5 linked regions of the Homo sapiens genome follow. The protein of the gene in region 5 interacts with the protein of the main gene of each other region in a pairwise test. Each region holds a gene or a part of one and is shown on either strand. Other genes may lie near its edges. The genes, in order: HSD17B11, AGR2, LMNA, STOML3 and ZDHHC24.

What was found.
Region 1: the proteins of ZDHHC24 (region 5) and HSD17B11 interact in binary tests that used the Homo sapiens proteins (3 or more experiments, as listed by UniProt).
Region 2: the proteins of ZDHHC24 (region 5) and AGR2 interact in binary tests that used the Homo sapiens proteins (3 or more experiments, as listed by UniProt).
Region 3: the proteins of ZDHHC24 (region 5) and LMNA interact in a two-hybrid assay, tested with the Homo sapiens proteins (one large-scale study listed by BioGRID).
Region 4: the proteins of ZDHHC24 (region 5) and STOML3 interact in binary tests that used the Homo sapiens proteins (3 or more experiments, as listed by UniProt).

Annotation. Positions count from the first base shown.
Region 1 is NC_000004.12:87,377,666-87,381,188, reverse strand, and holds part of HSD17B11 (estradiol 17-beta-dehydrogenase 11 precursor), read left to right. Parts: intron 1-3,523. UniProt on the Homo sapiens protein: Can convert androstan-3-alpha,17-beta-diol (3-alpha-diol) to androsterone in vitro, suggesting that it may participate in androgen metabolism during steroidogenesis.
Region 2 is NC_000007.14:16,794,996-16,798,518, reverse strand, and holds part of AGR2 (anterior gradient protein 2 homolog precursor), read left to right. Parts: intron 1-824; coding exon 825-888; intron 889-3,499; coding exon 3,500-3,523. UniProt on the Homo sapiens protein: Required for MUC2 post-transcriptional synthesis and secretion. May play a role in the production of mucus by intestinal cells. Proto-oncogene that may play a role in cell migration, cell differentiation and cell growth. Promotes cell adhesion.
Region 3 is NC_000001.11:156,128,211-156,131,710, forward strand, and holds part of LMNA (lamin), read left to right. Parts: intron 1-1,616; exon of another isoform or gene 1,617-1,639; coding exon of another isoform or gene 1,640-1,698; intron 1,699-2,406; coding exon 2,407-2,563; intron 2,564-3,500.
Region 4 is NC_000013.11:38,988,031-38,992,313, forward strand, and holds the start of STOML3 (stomatin-like protein 3), read right to left. Parts: upstream 2,802-4,283; 5' UTR 2,692-2,801; coding exon 2,640-2,691; intron 1-2,639. UniProt on the Homo sapiens protein: Required for the function of many mechanoreceptors. Modulate mechanotransduction channels and acid-sensing ion channels (ASIC) proteins. Potentiates PIEZO1 and PIEZO2 function by increasing their sensitivity to mechanical stimulations.
Region 5 is NC_000011.10:66,536,042-66,539,564, reverse strand, and holds part of ZDHHC24 (probable palmitoyltransferase ZDHHC24), read left to right. Parts: coding exon 1-36; 3' UTR 37-3,523. UniProt on the Homo sapiens protein: Probable palmitoyltransferase that could catalyze the addition of palmitate onto various protein substrates.

The sequences.
Region 1 (3,523 bases), on a different chromosome or scaffold from region 5:
TTGAAATGGAGTCTCACTCTGTCGCCCAGGCTGGAGTGCAGTGGCGTGATCTCAGCTCACTGCAAGCTCCACCTCCCGGGTTCACAAGCGATTCTCCTGCCTCAGCCTCCCTAGTAGCTGTGATTACAGGCACGCACCATCATGCCGGGCTAATTTTTGTGTTTTTGTAGAGATGGGGTTTCACTATGTTGGCCAGGGTGGTCTGGTCTGGAACTCCTGACCTCAAGTGATCCACCCTCCTTGGCCTCCCAAAGTGCTGGGATTACACGCGTGAGCCACCACACCTGGCCTGAGTTCTTTTTTTTTTTTTTTTTTTTTTTTTTTTGAGATAGAGTCTAGCTCTAGCTTTGTCGCCCAGGCTGGAGTGCAGTGGTGCGATCTCGGCTCACTGCAAGCTCCGCCTCCCGGGTTCACCCCATTCTCCTGCCTCAGCCTCCGGAGTAGCTGGGATTACAGGCGCCCGTCACCACGCTTGGCTAATTTTTTTGTATTTTTAGTAGAGACGGGATTTCACCGTGTTAGCCAGGATGGTCTGTATCTCCTGACCTCGTGATCTGCTCCCTCGGCCTCCAAAAGTGCTGGGATTACAGGCGTGAGCCACCGCGCCTAGCCCATTATCAGATATTTTGAAGTAGCTATTTTGAGGTGGCCATTTTAGTATCAGAACTTTTTTTCTTTTTCTCTTTTCTTTTCTTTTTTCTTTTTTTTTTTTTTTTTTGAGACAGTCTTGCTCTGTTGCCCAGGCTGCAGTGTAGTGGTGTGATCTTGGCTTACTGCAACCTCCGCCTCCTGGGTTCAAGCAGTTCTCCTGCCTCAGCCTCTCGAGTAGCTGGGATTACAGATGCCCGCCACCACGCATGGCTAATTTTTGTATTTTTAGTAGAGACGGGCTTTCACCATGTTAGCCAGGATGGTCTCGATCTCCTGACCTCGCGATCCGCCTGCCTTGGCCTCCCAAAGTGCTGGGATTTGTATATTTCTTAATAATGAAAGCAAGCTGAGAATCAGATATTTTGAAGTAGCTGTTTTGAGGTGGCCATTTTAGTATCATTTTAGTATCAGAACGTTTTTTTTTTTTGAGACAGAGTCTTGCTCTGTTACCCAGGCTGGAGTGTAGTGGCGTGATCTTGGCTCACTGCAACCTCCGCCTCCTGGGTTCAAGCAATCTTCCTGCCTCAGCCTCTCGAGTAGCTGGGATTACAGGCAGATACCTGTAATATATATATACAGGCTGATAAATATTATATACTTATATAGTATATATAAATATATAATATAATATGTATATATGAGATGTGCTGTATAATAATAATTAATAGTATAATACATATACATATACATATATAATAGTATAATACATATACTATTAATACTATAATACTATAGTATATTATACTATAATATACTATTACTATATTATACTGTTATACTATATTATACTATAGTATACTAATAATAGTATATACTATTATTATATACTAATATAATAGTATAGTATACTAATACTATATTATACTATTAATATATAATATACATACATATACATATAATATGTGTAATATAATACATATATGTATATATGAGTTGTGCTGTATATAATGCTGTGTATGTATATATGAGATGTATATGTAGATGTATATGTATATAATGCTGTATATGTATATATGTACATATTATATATGTATATATAATATATATTATATAATATAAATATAACAATATAAATATTATATATATATCCAGGAATCTGCCCAAGTAATTCTGATGACCTTGTTGACATTAAGGTAGTTAGTTAGGTACAAGCAAGAATGCGTTCAGAGTGAAACCCCATTATATACAGCACATCTCAATTGTATCTAGAAGAGGCAAATAATGCTTTATAGAAATATATCTGCTGGAGCGTGGCTTATGCCTAGAATCCCAGCACTTTGGGAGGCCGAGGTGGGTGGATCCCCTGAGCTCAGGAGTTCGAGATCAGCCTGGGCAACATGGTCACCTGAAGTCAGGAGTTCAAGACCAGCCTGGCCAATATGATGAAACCCTGTCTCTATAAAAATGCAAAAATTAGCTGGGCATGATGGCAGGTGCCTGTAATCCCAGCTACTTGGGAGGTTGAGGTGAGAGAATCACTTGAACCTGGGAGGCGGAGGTTGTAGTGAGCTGAGATCATGCCACTGCACCCCAGCCTGGACAACAGAGCAAGACACCATCTCAAAAAAAAAAAAAAATATATATATATAAATATATATATATATATATTTATATATATTTATATATATATATTTATATATATTTATATATATATATTTATATATATATATTTATATATATTTATATATATATTTATATATATATATTTATATATATATTTTATATTTATATATATATATAAAATCATATATATATACACGCAAAACATATTCTCTCTTATTTGAGAGAGCTAAAAATTAAAATAATCGAACTCTTGGAGATAGAGAGTAGAAGGATGGTTACCAGAGGCTGGGAAGGGTAGAGGTGGTGTAGGGAAGAAGTAGGGATGGTTAATGGGTACCAAAAATTAGAACAAATAGGCTACTCTGGTTGCACTGCCTGTGAGTTAGCCCTGCTCTGCAAGGAGCAGCCATAAAGAATTTTTTGTTAGTAAAAATGATTAATAATAGTAATTTAATTGTACATTTTAAAATAACTAAAAGTATAATTGGATTGTTTGTAACACAAAGGGTAAATGCTTGAGGGGATGGATACCTGATTTACCCTGATGTGATAATTATGCACTGCATGCCTGTATCAAAATGTCTCATGTAACCTTGAATATATACACTACTATGTACCCACAAAAATTTAAAAACAAAATTAATACAAAAAAATACAAAACAGACATTCATATCCTGGGGAGGTAATAGGCAATGATGAAGAAAGGGTCAAGAGTGTCTGGGAAAATCCTTTGGTAATATAAAATAGTATATAGGTATAAATGGTGTTGATCAGGGTCAAAAAACTTAGCTTGACACTTTACTAACGTAAATATAATCTGATGAAATTCAATTCTGACTGAAGAGCCTTCAGCATGGCAGATTGATGCCCTACAGGAGTACTGGTAGACTTTTGCCCATGGCCTCCTTTCTGTTTGGGGTGGCTTGTCTTGGGCTCTGACGTCAGACAGATCTGGGAGAGTCCCAGCTCCATCTTTTAATAGCCATGTGACCTTGGGTATGAAACTCAACCATTCTGTTTCATGTTTTCATCTTTAAAGTGAGCATATAAGAATTGCTGTCTCATTGAGTTACTGTGAGAATTCAATAAGAAAAATAATGAAATCATGTAAATGCATAACAAAGTAAAAGCCCCTCATAGGCTATTTGCCACTTTTCCCTCAGTCCCCCAACACACTGTAGCACTATCTCTAAATAATGATAACTCTGTTAATAGAGCTAGGTTTCATTTGAAACACAGTGTATAACAAAATGCATTAGGACGCTAGGGTCTATCCGCCCAAGCATCTTAGTTGCTTATGGAACCATAA
Region 2 (3,523 bases), on a different chromosome or scaffold from region 5:
GAACAAAGGAAAACACTATGGCATGGTGTGCAAAGTCATTCCTAAGCCGGCCCCTGAAGCAGCTCTAGCACCTTCTTTCGCCACTGCCCTCGTGCATCCCCCCAACTCAGTCCTTCCCCAGCACTTGGCCATAGGAGAAAATGCTCCACCTGTCCTCTCCATACTCTTCCCCCTGCATGAAGTGTCTTTCTTTTCCACCTAACTGACTCCTGTTCATTTGTAAAGATTCCTCCTTATCCACTTCAGAAAGTCCTAGTCGGGGTGGAATCTGCATTCTGGGCTAAATGTCTTGCTCAAGGCAATCACCAAACCTGCATATCCTACACCGTAACATTTCACCCACTGCATCCTCAATATTCATTTTCCTACCTGTATCTCTCAATAGAGTGTGCATTCATTAAAGATAAGCACCATGCCTTGCTAAATACAGTTCTAAATAAAAATTGATAAATGGATAAATGAATACTCAAGAAAATCCCGTACTTGTCTCCGTAATTTCTCTAGAAATGACATCTGCTTTTTTCCTTAATAGCCTCTTATTTCATCCCAGATGTCTTCCCCAAACACAGTAACTCCTTCCAAATTCTCCCTTAATTTTTTTGCTCTTTATCACATCCATTCAGCACTTTATCTCATGTTCTGCTCTATCTTATTTATTATTTCATGCTTGTAACTTGTCTCCTCATCTGTACAATAAACTCTGTGTGGAAGAGTTATGATATCTTGAGATGCCTGGCCGGAAATGGACAGATTCTTGTATTAACAAGTTTGAAAACGACTGAAAAGTCAAAGTAAACTAAAAGATGCTTTTCTTTTTATTTTAGTATGAAACAACTGACAAACACCTTTCTCCTGATGGCCAGTATGTCCCCAGGATTATGTTTGTTGGTAAGCGGAAGTGACAGTGAGATAACTCGGAAACACATACTAGTGCTGCCATCCTCCTTCTCTCCTCCCCACTGTCCCTTGCCACGTTGCCATGGCCAATGTCATCACTAAGCTCTAGCAAGGAGCATGACATTCCTTTAAGTTCCGCAACATATTTTCTTTAGAAAATGTGAGCTTTTACCTATTTCCACACAACACTTTCTTTTCTCACATGCTAATTGTAACTTTTCATCTTCTGCTATAATACTTCTGAGAACAAAGCACCCTATTCACTATTTAAACATATTGATAAATTTCCTGAATACGAGAGGCCTGCAAATATTTATTTTTTAATCCAGCAAACTTTCACTTTGTGTGTTAGATTTTTCTGACATTTTTTATCATTATTTTTAAGAAAGTTAGGAATAAGGCTGGGTGGCTCACGCCTGTAATCCTAGCACTTTGGGAGGCCAAGGCCGGCAGATCACTTGAGGTCAGGAGCTCCAAACCAGCCTGGCCAACAAGGTGAAACCCCATCTCTACTAAAAAATACAAAAAAAAAATTAGCCAGGCGTGGTTGCAGGAGCCTGTAATCCCAGCTACCTGGGAGGCTGAGGCACAAGAATTGCTTGAACCCAAGAGGCAGAGGTTGCAGTGAGCCGAGATGGCACCACTGCACTCCAGCCTGGGCAACAGAGCGAGATTCTGTCTCAAAAAAAAAAAAGGAATATGAGGTGGGAAAAAGAAATGAAAGGAGCCACATGCTCCTTCCTGCCACTGGTACTTTTCATATGCTTTCCCCACTTCCTTCTCTGTCCCCCAATTTCACATCATTAACTCCCCAATCATCATTATTCATTGACCGAGTCAAATCCCTACTATGTGCTCTTGTAGTCATACTTTCCTCAGGTATAATTTTGCAGTTTGGGGGTGGTTATGTAATAAATATTTCCCACATTGGACTATAAGCCCCTATGGCAGGGACTGTACCTATTTCTGCTCACCATGATATTCCCAACGTGACCCTGCAGTAGGCTCTCCATCAATATGTGTTTAATTATTGAATGAATGTACTGAGTTTGGCTTTGTTCAAAGTCATACTGATTTAAGGACAATCCATAATGAAATCCATCACTTACAACAATTCATGCTAATCATATGATTCACCTGTGTAATTCATTAAAAGTTTACACTGAATGTACAAAGCAGGGAAAAGAAAAACAAGAAATAGAAAAAAAGGAAGAAGGCTGAACTAAAGCACTAATTTTATAGGTTTAGTTTTGTCAGAATTTAGGACATTTGGAATCCTAACATTAAAAGGGAATTTATAGATGTCTGTTCATACCTTGTACAGGAATTCTTTGTACAGCATCCCTGTGGAAGGGCATTTTAACCCACATTCAATTCCTTCAGTCCTAAGAACCAGCTCCAAGGCAGCTTGCTCTTCTAGCTCCGTAGTAGCCACCCTGACTACATGTTTGAATCACCTGGAGGATTTTAAAGATCAAGTTGCCCAGGCCACACCTCAAACCAATTAAATCAGAATCTCTGGGGGTGGGAGGCAGGCATCCATAGTGTTTACAGCTCTCCAGATGATTCCAATGTGCAGCCAGGTGAGCTGCTAGTTGGGTATTTAAAAAGCCCTTCTTAGGTTAATTTCTTACAAAGATTAGACCGTGTCTTTGTATCCTCTGCACCAAACAGAAGTATAGTTGGTCTTAAATCTGGTGAATAAATGTACATCTGCTTCTTGTAATTTATGTGTCTGGCCTTAGTCCAACATTCTGAAATGACAGATTGCCCACTCCAGTACCAGCGACAGACTTTGCAAACATGCAGATGGTTCTCACATGTCTTCCTTGTCTCATTTTCAGGGCACGTGTCCTAGGTTCTTTCGATTACGTCTCTCAAGGCAAGGTTTCCAGATCTCTCTGTATCCTCACGCTTCCCTTTTGGATGCACCTTAATTTTAAAATACCTCTTTTTCTCATTAATTAGATCACTTCAAGTTAAATACAAAACATGGCAAGATGGATTTAAATTTAGAGGGATATAAGTATACATAAGAGAAGACCAATCTCTACTTTTAAAAATGCAGTTAATTAACAATAAAGTAAAATATAGTGAAGGTACTATATGCTTATTTGAACTTTGCTGTTGTTAAGGACTTGCATTCCTCTATTAACTTTTTTTAAAAAACTCGTTTTGAAAACTAGCATTGGATGTGGGTTTCCAATGATCTAGAAACATGTAAACTACAACATAATCGTTTCAAGAATTTAAAATAATTTTGCAGTAGAGAATGTTAATGTTTTCACCAAAAAAAAAAAAAACACCATGTCACCCCTAAATATATATTATTCTGTTTTCAGGTTGCCATAGATAGAACAGAAGGGTTCATAACCTTTTCCACAAATAGCACTGCACAGCTGTTGATGTTTCCAGCCCTGCATTTGCTACTAACTGCCAGGGGCTGGGTAGTAGAGTGGATGGATCAGAGCTCCTGTGAGTGCAGACACACTCCATTCCCTCACAGGACATGAATACATGAACTTCAGCTCCCCGGGGCAATAAATACAGGTTGTTTGAAAACAAACCATTCCATTCCCTTTTGCTTCATTTATCTTTGCAGACCCATCTCTGACAGTTAGAGCCG
Region 3 (3,500 bases), on a different chromosome or scaffold from region 5:
AAGTGTTTGCTATTATATTATTATTATCACTGCCACCACCGCTTTTGCAAGCAGCAGAAGGTGAAGAGGTTAGACTGAAGAAAAAACTTCTGTGCTCATCAGCCCATAAGCTCGCAGAGCACAGGGATCATGCATCTATGTTTTCCTCAGTCAGTGTCTGCCAGGCACTGGCAAGGAAAGGCTGTTACCAGGGGGAACTCCAGGAATTCCTCCTGGCACCTAAGGAGGCTGGGGAGACAGGACTAGGGAAAAGGTGCCCTTGAGACACCTTCTGAAATCATCCCATTGCCTTCCAGCTTCTTTCAGCTCAGGCTGGCTGGTCAGGGAAACGCTTTGTGCCATAGTGTCTGCCCTCTTCCTCCTCCTGGCTTCTCCATTCTCTCTGGAACTTGTGGCTTAGGAAAGCAGTGAGGTGGAGGAGGAGGAACCCTAGATCAGCAGCTAGAATTGACTGGAATGCTGCTGCTGGCTTTCGGTAATTGACACTGGGCCATTCACCTTCCTCCTTTGCACCTCAGTTTCCTCATCTATAAAAGGGAGAGGGTTGAGCTGAATCAACTCTAAGCTCCTTCTAGTTCTCTAAATTCTGAGAGCCTCCTAGTACAGCCAGCAGCAGCCATTAGCCTTCAGGGTAGAGAGGCCTCTTCTGGGAAGCCCCAGCCAGCCTGGGGGTCAGCCCAAGGAGCTCGGAATCTAAGTTGCCCCAGTTGCTTCACTTTACCAGCGGTTTTTCTTCATTTTCCCTCCTCCCCCTGCAGCTGCTTCAGCTTCGGAAAAGTTCTGAAGTCATGGAAAGTTGGGGCTGTGCTCCCAGCCAGGGGCTAGGCCGGATGGCAGCCAAAACCTGAGCTGGGTTTTGACTTTATTTTTAGCTTTTCTGACTGAGACAGAGGAGGGAATACATTCTCCGGTTCTGGAAGGGGCTCTTTTTTGCAGGAGACAGACACTTACATTAAACAACTTGTTCTGAGGTGTGGCCAGAGGCCTGGACTGAGCAAGTGTGCAGGCTGGGGGAGCTTCCTCTGGCTTCTCATGTCCTTCCCCTGCCCCTCTGAGTGTCACTCTATCCTCCTCCCTGCCTGGTGGGGGGAGGTGGGGGTGACTCCTTTTTTGGACTCTCCTAAGCAGAACACTGCCTGGGTCTCGTCCTCCAGAGCTTCTGCAAATCTAGCCTTCCCTATCCCTCTTCACAGTGAATTGCTGGGCCTCTTGGAGTTTAGGACTTTTGTGGTAGAAGAAAAATGTTGGCAGGGCTGCTTTTCTCCTTTCCAGGATAGATTTTTCCTTCTGCCCACGCTTGGTTTTCCTTTTTTCCATCTGCTGTGGTGGGCTCATGCTTAAGCACTGATGAGTTACAGATGGCAGCTGGAACCAGGTCCTCTGGATCTTTCCCTCCGCTCCCTGGGTCTGCTGCTTTCTCTCACCCTATATTTGTGAAGCAATTGTAACATCTAGAAAGTTCTTGGGTTCTCTGGAGGTTTTTAAGAAAATAGGACCTTTCTATTTCTCCAGTCCACTAGCAAAAATAATCAGGGGCCCAGAAAAGGTGAGGGAGGTGGCAGAGGCAGCGCTGTTCGACTGGTTATAGCTAAAGCTTTACCCACTTTGAGGAGCAGGGAGGCTTAAAGCTGGGGCCCAGATGGACCTGGAGGCCTGGGATCCACATCTGGAACCAGATGCTGAGGCTATGGTAGATGGGTAGGGCTCAGCCTTCTCCCAGGGCACGGATGAGGCAGGAGGGAGGGAGGCAGGGACCCCTCTGTTCAGTGCAGATCAGGGCACCCAGACTGGGTCCTGAGAAAGGAAAGGGTCAATATTGTGCCTGGTCATCCTTGTCTGAGGTCCCTCTGAGCTCTAACCAGACTTTCCTTCCCCACAGTCCCACATGTGTAAAAGGGACTAGGAGAGGTGACCAGTACCTTTGGGGCTCAGATCGAGAAGTGCTAGGGACATGTGGGCCATGAGCTTAGTTGTCAGGCTCCTCAGAGGGAGGGAAGCTTGGCCAAAGGGAAGTGAGTAGAGTCCAGGGAGAAGGCTAAGTAAGGCCCTGTGTGGGAAGGGGCAGGAGACAAAGGTACCCCTGTCTCTTTGGGAAAGAATGGGAGGAGAGAGAGGGAAAAGCATTCATATCACGGGGTAGAGCTCTGCCCTTGGCCCCAGGCACGTTCCTGAGCCCTGAGTCATGGGAAGGGTGGAGAAGCAGGAAGGGGGTTTTCAAGGACCTTGGGGAGGTGGGAGCCCAGCCCCAGAGGCAAGCAGATGCAAACCAACCTAATGCAAGGATGCCCTCTCCTGGTAATTGCAGGCATAGCAGCGCCAGCCCCCATGGCTGACCTCCTGGGAGCCTGGCACTGTCTAGGCACACAGACTCCTTCTCTTAAATCTACTCTCCCCTCTCTTCTTTAGCAATACCAAGAAGGAGGGTGACCTGATAGCTGCTCAGGCTCGGCTGAAGGACCTGGAGGCTCTGCTGAACTCCAAGGAGGCCGCACTGAGCACTGCTCTCAGTGAGAAGCGCACGCTGGAGGGCGAGCTGCATGATCTGCGGGGCCAGGTGGCCAAGGTGAGGCCACCCTGCAGGGCCCACCCATGGCCCCACCTAACACATGTACACTCACTCTTCTACCTAGGCCCTCCCCCATGTGGTGCCTGGTCTGACCTGTCACCTGATTTCAGAGCCATTCACCTGTCCTAGAGTCATTTTACCCACTGAGGTCACATCTTATCCTAATTTGGCTGCCAATGGGATCTACCACAGTGAATTTAAAATAATCCAGGAGGCCGGGCATGGTGGTTCACGCCTGTAATCCCAGCACTTTAGGAGGCCGAGGTGGGCCGATCACGAGGTCAGGAGATCGAGATCATCCTGACTAACATGGTGAAACCCCGTCTCTACTAAAAATACAAAAAATTAGCCTGGCATGGTGGCGGGCGCCTGTAGTCCCAACTACTCGGGAGGCTGAGGCAGGAGAATGGCGTGAGCCTGCGAGGCAGAGCTTGCAGTGAGCTGAGATCATGCCACTGCACTCCAGCCTGGGCAACAGAGTGAGACTCCGTCTCAAAAAAATAATAATAATAATAATAAAAATAATCCAGGCCATGTGTGGTGGCTCATGCCTGTAATCCCAGCATTTTGGGAGGCCAAGGAGGCAGGATTGCTTGAGTCCAGGAGTTTGAGACCAGCCTGGGCAACACAGACCCCATCTCTAGAAAATAAAAATTTAAAGAAATTAGCTGGGCATGGTGGTGTGCACCTATAGTCCCAGCTACTTGGGAGGCTGAGGCAGGAGGATGGCTTGAACCTGAGAGGTCGAGGATACAGTGAGCTGTGATTGCACCACTGCACTTCAGCCTGGGTGACAGAGGGAAACCCTGTCTCTACATAAATAAATACATAAAATAAAATAATCCACAAGCCATTTCTACTTAACTTTGCAATGAACTGTACCTGACCCTAGATCCCTCCCAGTTTGGCCCTCCGGTATACAAGGGCCTCCTAT
Region 4 (4,283 bases), on a different chromosome or scaffold from region 5:
TTTTATATCATATATTTTATATATAATATATTATATTTTATATCATATATTTTATATATAATATGTTATATTTTATATCATATATTTTATATATTATATTTTATATCATATATTTTATATCATATATTTTATATATAATATATTATATTTTATATAAAATATATTATATTTCATATAAAATATATGATATTTTATATCATATATTTTATATATAATATATTATATTTTATATCATATATTATATATAAAATATATTATATTTTATATCATATATTTTATATATAATATATTATATTTTATATATAATATATTATATTTTATATCATATATTTTATATAATATATTATATTTTATATCATATATTTTATATAAAATATATGATATTTTATATCATATATTTTATATAAAATATATTATATTTTATATCATATATTTTATATATAATATATTTTATATCATATATTTTATATATAATATATTTTATATCATATATTTTATATATAATATATTTTATATCATATATTTTATATATAATATATTTTATATCATATATTTTATATATAATATATTATATATCATATATTTTATATATAATATATTATATTTTATATCATATATTTTATATATATTATATATTGAAATTTTATATATTTGATATCAAACACATCATTAAAAAGGTGAAAAAATAAGTGACAACTGGAAAAACATATTTGCCACTTATGTGCTGTCAGGTATATCAAGTATTCATAAGTACATATTACAAGTTATATATTATAGTATATAGTATATATAATTATATATACTATAATACATAATATATATTATATATGCTGTATTATATAATATATATTATTACATATTATATACTATACTATAGAATACATAATATATATACTATATTATACAATATATTATATATACTATATTACACAATATATTATATATACTATATTACATAATATATATCATACATTATATACTATATTATATAAGATATATGTTATATATGTTATATTGTATTATATATATTTTTTATATATATCTGAGTTGCAAGGGCAAACTTAGTCCACAGATCTCAGAGAATGGTCCACACTGTATCTCTCCTAAAAAACTACAAAAGCACAGGAAATCAGACATTGCAAATATATCAGCCCCATTTTGTTCATTCTGTGATAGTGCCAGTTTTTCATATTCAAATATCGAAACCAAGAAAACTCATGAGTACTTTCAAGAATCTCACTGATGATACAGCTTCAGTCATGCCATCTACCCAGTTGATGTCTTCACCTGTTAAAATGGAAACTAAATGTCTCATGAAGGATAAATAAGGGGACTCTTGAGATCTCCCGCTTGCATTTCCAGATGATATTTACTGCCTTCAAGCTTTTCATGCCTACTTCAAAAGAAAAGTTTCTTTTCCAATTCAGGTAAATGTCTCTAAATGTATACTTTTTCTTTTTTCTTTCTTTATTCCATTTTTTTTTCTTTGTTAGGCAGGGTCTCACTCTGTCACCCAGGCTGGAGTACAGTGGTGCAATCTCAGCTCACTGAAGCCTAAACCTCCTGGGCTCAAGCAATCCTCCCACCTCAACCTCCCACTTAGCCACAGGCATGTGCCACCACACCTGGCTAAATTTTGTATTTTTTGTAGAGATGAGTTTTTGCCATTTTGCCCAGGCTGGTCTCGAACTCCTGAGCTCAAGTGATCTGCCTGCCTTGGCCTTCCAAAGTGCTGCGATTACAGGGCATGCACCAGTGCATGCAGCCTAGTTTTTTCTTTTATGTATTAGTAATGCCAAACGTGTTCTCTATTTCTAACATGTACTATGGCTTTTTTGGCAACATAAGGTACAGAGCACAGGTTAGGTCATACACACACGCACACTCACACCATCATCACACACACACACACGCACACCATCATCATAATCACTTTCTGAACAACTTTTTAAACTTTCCAATGCTCAGTTTTCTCATTTGTAAAATGAGATTCTAAGAGGATCTACCTCAGAATTATTGTAAAATTGAAAGAGATAATGCAAGCAAAATGCTTTGTAACACATAATAGTCATTAGTATTAATGATAGTAGTTGGTACTTATAAGCTAAGTTTTTTTTCTCAACTTCTCTCCATTTATCAAACAGGATACAGCTCAAACCAACTTTTCTTTTTAATCTCAGCATCATCAGAAAATGTTTGAAGTTGGAGAAAAGTCAGCCTCTTCAACATATCTTTGTTATTTAATACAAAAAGAAGAAATACAAAGATAAACACCAATTCTATCTAAAATTGAATGAAAAATAAAGCAAGTTATAGACTGCTGTTCAAGAAGCAAATGAAATCAGCATAAGCAATGAATTCAAAATCCTGAGAAGGATTTCATACAGAAAGAAGAAATTCAAAGATAAACACCAACTTTATCTAAAATTGAAGGAAAAATAAAGCAAGTTATAGACTGCCGTTCAAGAAGCAAATGAAATCAGCATAAGCAATGAATTCAAAATCCTGGGCTATAAATGAAATTGAGGCCGATTTCTGCAAATATATCTCATACTTACTCTATACCTGTCTATAATGCTACAACTCCTGCTTTGCCATATATGTAAAAAACAAGCCTAAGACAGGAAAAAGGAACTTACCCACGAAATTCTCTTTATCTTGCTTCTCAGGTGAAGACACCCTAGAATCCATCTCATTCTTGAGAAGCTTTTATACTTGGCAATTTTTCATGGGTTTGGAGCTAAGTGTGAAGAACAGGCAGCAACTCAGATGTGCTTGGGAGAGGGGAGAGGAGAAAGTATGAGAGAGTGAAAGACATTCCTTCTCTTTAGTGAACTCCCTAAGGGGTAGTTACCCTGGTGAGGGAAGCCTGATAACATAAACAAAAAGATTTCTTTTATGAGTTCAGACTGCCTTTGTTCACAGAAAAAACTTGAAAGAATATGACCATCTGGTGGTATTGCTTCCTGTAAAATATTGCTGTGTAATTTTCTATAGCATTTATATTTCATAAAACACTTCTATGCACCTTGTATAAATCTTGTGTGATCACTGATTACACAATGACCTGTTCAATACACAGGGCAAGTGTATCCATCCTTATGTTTCAGATGAGAAAATTTAACCCAACTCATTCTAACACTGCAGTGAGTGAGCTTTTGAAACTCAAATCTGATCATGTCTTCATCCTGCTTAAAATAATCAAAAAATTGCCAACTGTCAATATTGTAAAGACCAAACTCCTAAGTGTCCTACAAGACCCTGCTGGCCTGCCCCTTCCTCCCTTTCCAGCCTCACTCATGTGTCTCTCCGTGAAGCAGCTCCATTGGTCTCCTATCAGTGCCTCCAAAGCTTGATATGTCTTCTCGCCACCGGATCTTTGCACGTGTTATCATATGCATAATTTTTTGGCTTGTGTCTGTTTCTTCTTCTAGACCAAGAATTGACAAACTTTAGCTTGCCAGCTAAATTTAATTTACCACTTGTTTTTAAAACATAAAGTGTTATTGGAACACAGTATGTCCTTTTGTTGCTTTCTTTTTTTTTTTTTTTTTTTTGAGATAGGATTTCACTCTGTTGCCCAGGCTGGAGTGCAGTGGCACAATCACAGCTCACTGCAATCTCGACCTGCCAGGCTCAAGCAATCTTCCTACCTCAGCCTCTTCAACAGCTGGGACTCCAGGTGCACACCACCATACCTGGCTAATTTTTAATTTTTTTTTTTTTTAGAGATGGGGCCTCACTATATTGCCCAGGCTGGTCTCAAACTCTGGGCTCAAATGATCCTTCAGCCTTGGTCTCCCAAACTGCTGGGATTGTAGATATGAGCCACCATGCCCAGCTCTTTCATTTTTGTATTGTCTGTGCTCACTTTTGCACTGCACCCGTGGATTTGAGTAGTTGTGACACAGACCATACAAGCTGTAAGGCCTAAAATATTTACTGTTTGTCCCTTCACAAAAAAAGTTTGCTGACCCCTGCCTTGCACTATACATTTCCATGAGGAGAGTGACTTGGTCTAACATTTCCATTGCATCTGCAACAATTAGAACAACGTGGGCACATGATTGATGTTCAACAATACTTGCTGAATGAATGAATATATAAATCACAAATGAAAACAGCTCTCAAATGGCAAAGCTCTTTCTCAAATCCAGATCCTTAGGATCCTGTACTAGGATTCCTTCTTTCATCAGACCACATAGAACCACAGACAATTTTGTGGTTATTCCAATACTAAGAACACCAATTTTCTAATTTTCTGATGTTCATTTCTCTCATAT
Region 5 (3,523 bases):
CAGACCACAGCAGATGTGGGACACACAGCCTCCTGACTCCAGGAAGAGCCAGAGCTGTGCAGGGAGGAAGGGGTGAGAGGGGGGCCCCCACACCTAGACTCAGTAAGGAAGTCGGGTTGGACCTTAACATCTGCATTGGACAACTCCACCCCTTCCTTGGCCTTGCCCCTGCCCGCCTACACTCCTACGTGTCCAGGGCTTGGGCCGTGACTTAGGCAGAGGAGTGCAGAGGAGGGTCTGGCAGGGGCTGCTCAGGCCGCCTAGCTGCCCCTTTGCCAGGTTAATAAAGCACTGACTTGTTTCTCAGCCTCCCTCCATCTTTGCATAGTTTCTGGCCCCTCACTTTGTTGCTGGGGCTGTTTCTGGGACCCTCTGTAGGGCCTGGAAACTGCAGGATGCCTGAGGGTCTCAGGGGCTGGGGCTCTACCTCCCCTGGCCTGGGTGAGTTGGGGGTGGGGCACCAGCACGCCAAGGCAGTGTCCTACTGATCCAGGCTATGAGAATCCAAACATTCTTTCCCAGGTTTGGCATTTTATAGTTAGAAGCATTTCTGCAACAGCAGTTTCATGGAACCTCTCTTAGCTAACCTGGTCCATGGGGCAGCAGTTACGCTCTAAGAATCCATGTGGTAAGATCATGGTGCGGCAAATGGAGGCAGGGTCCAACCCAGGTCTTTGTGCTTTTGCCTTTACCCTTGCACAGCTGGAGGAAATGAGTAGGAAAGAAATCAAGGTAAAGAAATGCGCTGGGGCTGTTTGGGCATCTGTGGAGGGTGGTGCTGACAGGGCTAGGCCTGCACCTCTCTGGCCTCCTCAAGAGCTGCTTGTTAAATGTTTCCGTGTAAATAGAATGAATAGAGACCGCCATTTCCACATGGCAGGCCTAAACACATGTGTTCGTCTCAGTTTTCTCTTAGGATCTCTCTAAGATGATAGTAAAGAAAATCAAAAATAATACAAAGGGAAAGAAAACAGGAGGGAAGACAGTAGAACACAGAGCCTGACCACATTTTCTTTTTTCTCTCTGTTGCCGGGGCTGGAGTGCAGTGGCACGATCTCGGTTCACTGTAACCTCCACCTCCCGGGTTCAAGTGATTCGGCCTCCCGAGTTGCTGGGATTACAGACACCCGCCACTATGCCCGGCTGATTTTTTTTTTTTTCTTTTTTGAGACGGAGTTTTGCTCTTGTTGCTCAGGCAGGAGTGCAATGGCGTGATCTCGGCTCACTGCAACCTCCGCCTCCTGGGTTCAAGCGATTCTCCTGCCTCAGCCTCCCGAGTAGCTGGGATTACAGGTGCCCGCCACCATTCCTGGCTAATTTTTGTATTTTTAGTAGAGACGGGGGTTTCACCATGTTGGCCAGGCAGGTCTCAAACTCGTGACCTTGTGATCCGCCCGCCTTGGCCTCCCGAAGTGCTGGAATTACAGGTGTGAGCCATTGCGCCTGGCCATGCCCAGCTAATTTTTTTGTATTTTTAGTATAGACAGGGTTTCACCATGTTGGCCAGGCTGAACTTGAATTCCTGGCACCTGCCTCCACCTCCGTCTCCCAAAGTGCTAGGATTACAGGCGTGAGCTACCGTGCCTGGCTGACAATTTTTTATTATTTTATTTTATTTTATTTTATTTTATTTTATTTGAGACAGACTCTTGTTCTGTTGCCAGGCTGGAGTGCAGTGGCACGATCTCGGCTCACTGCAAGCTCCGCCTTCTGGGTTCACGCCATTCTCCTGCCTCAGCCTCTCAAGTAGCTGGGACTACAGGTGCCTGCCACCACGCCAAGCTAATTTTTTGTATTTTTAGTAGAGACGAGGTTTCACCGTGTTAGCCAGGATGGTCTCGATCTCCTGACCTTGTGATCCACCTGCCTCGGCCTCCCAAAGTGCTGGGATTACAGGTGTGAGCCACCACTCCTGGCCGGCCAGGATGGTCTTGATCTACTGACCTCGTGATCTGCCCGCCTTGGCCTCCCAAAGTGCTGGGATTACAGGTGTGAGCCACCGTGCCCGGCCGCCTGGCTGACATTTTCAAAGATGGAAAGTGGATGGAGAATTAAGAGCTGAAATTATGTGTTCCCAAAAGGTGGGGCCAAAAGGCAAGTGGAATTACCTGCCAGAGCCCCGGAGGGGCTCAGGAACTCCACCAGGACCATGGAGGGTGAGGTGAGGCTTCGGCCAACAATGGGGACCGATGGAAAGTCTATGTAAGGATCAGTGGGGTGCCGCTCCCCCACATCCCACCCACACCCCACCCACATCATGCAGCCAGCAGCTACACCTCTGGGTGGGGTGGTGTGACGTGAGGATTATTTGAAGGATAAATGGAACCAGAGAAGCTTCGGGTCTTAGGCGTACTGGGGAGGGGTGGGTGAGAGGCTAGACCAAAAAATGGGGTTAAGTGAAAGTCCATAGATACTGCTGGGGGGCCTCCCATGAAAGAACATGCTTGACCCCCAAGAACCTTCAGAGAAACCCACCCTCTGACAGGCTCTGCCCATGCCCACAAAGATCTGAGCTGCTTGGCTGGTTGTTTTTGTAACAGGCATGCTCTGTTGCTATTTTTTAATGACAGGAGGAACTTGGTGTACCTGGCACTTTGGGCTGCACAGACGCATTAGCAGACTCACCTTGTCCTGTTTCATCCCTCGCCCTCCACAATTTCTTATTTTCTTTCTTTCTCTTTTTATTTTTTGAGACAGAGTTTCACTCTTGTTACCCAGGCTGGAGTGCAATGATGCGATCTTGGTTCACCGAAACCTCCGCCTCCCGGGTTCAAGCGATTCTCCTGCTGCAGCCTCTCGGTAGCTGGGATTACAGGCATGTGCCACCATGCCCGGCTAATTGTTTTTGTATTTTTAGTAGAGACGGGGTTTCTCCATGTTGGTCAGGCTGGTCTGGAACTCCTGACCTCAGGTGATCCACCTGCCTCGGCCTCCCAAAGTGCCGGGATTACAGGTATGAGCCACTGCGCCCAGCCCACAATATCTTATTTTCATGTTTTTTTGTGTGTTTTGTTTTATTTTTCGAGATGGAGTCTCTCTGTTGCCCAAGCTGGAGTGCAATGGCGCGATCTTGGCTCACTTCCTGGGTTCAAGCGATTCTCCTGCCTTAGCCTCCCAAGTAACTGGGATTGCAGGCACCCACCATCATGCCCTGCTAAATTTTGTACTTTTGTAGAGATGGAGTTTCACCATGTTGGTCAGGCTGGTCTTGAACTGCTGACCTCAGGTGATCTGCCCACCTTGGCCTCCCAAAGTGCTGGGATTACAGGTGTGAGCCACCATGCCTGGACTCGTTGTTGTTGTTGTTTTTAATTAGTGAGGAGCTACAAGAACACATTTATAAAAATTAAGAGGAAACAGCCCCACTGCATTTGAGAAGGTTACCATTTCCTTCGAAGTTCCTGCTGTTGCCCCTTCCTGGTGGGGGAGACACTGTCCTGTTTCAGTCATTCCGTTGCTTTGCTTTATAGTTTTATTAATGTGTTTGTGTTGGCTTTGCATGTTTTCAAATATATGAATGAAA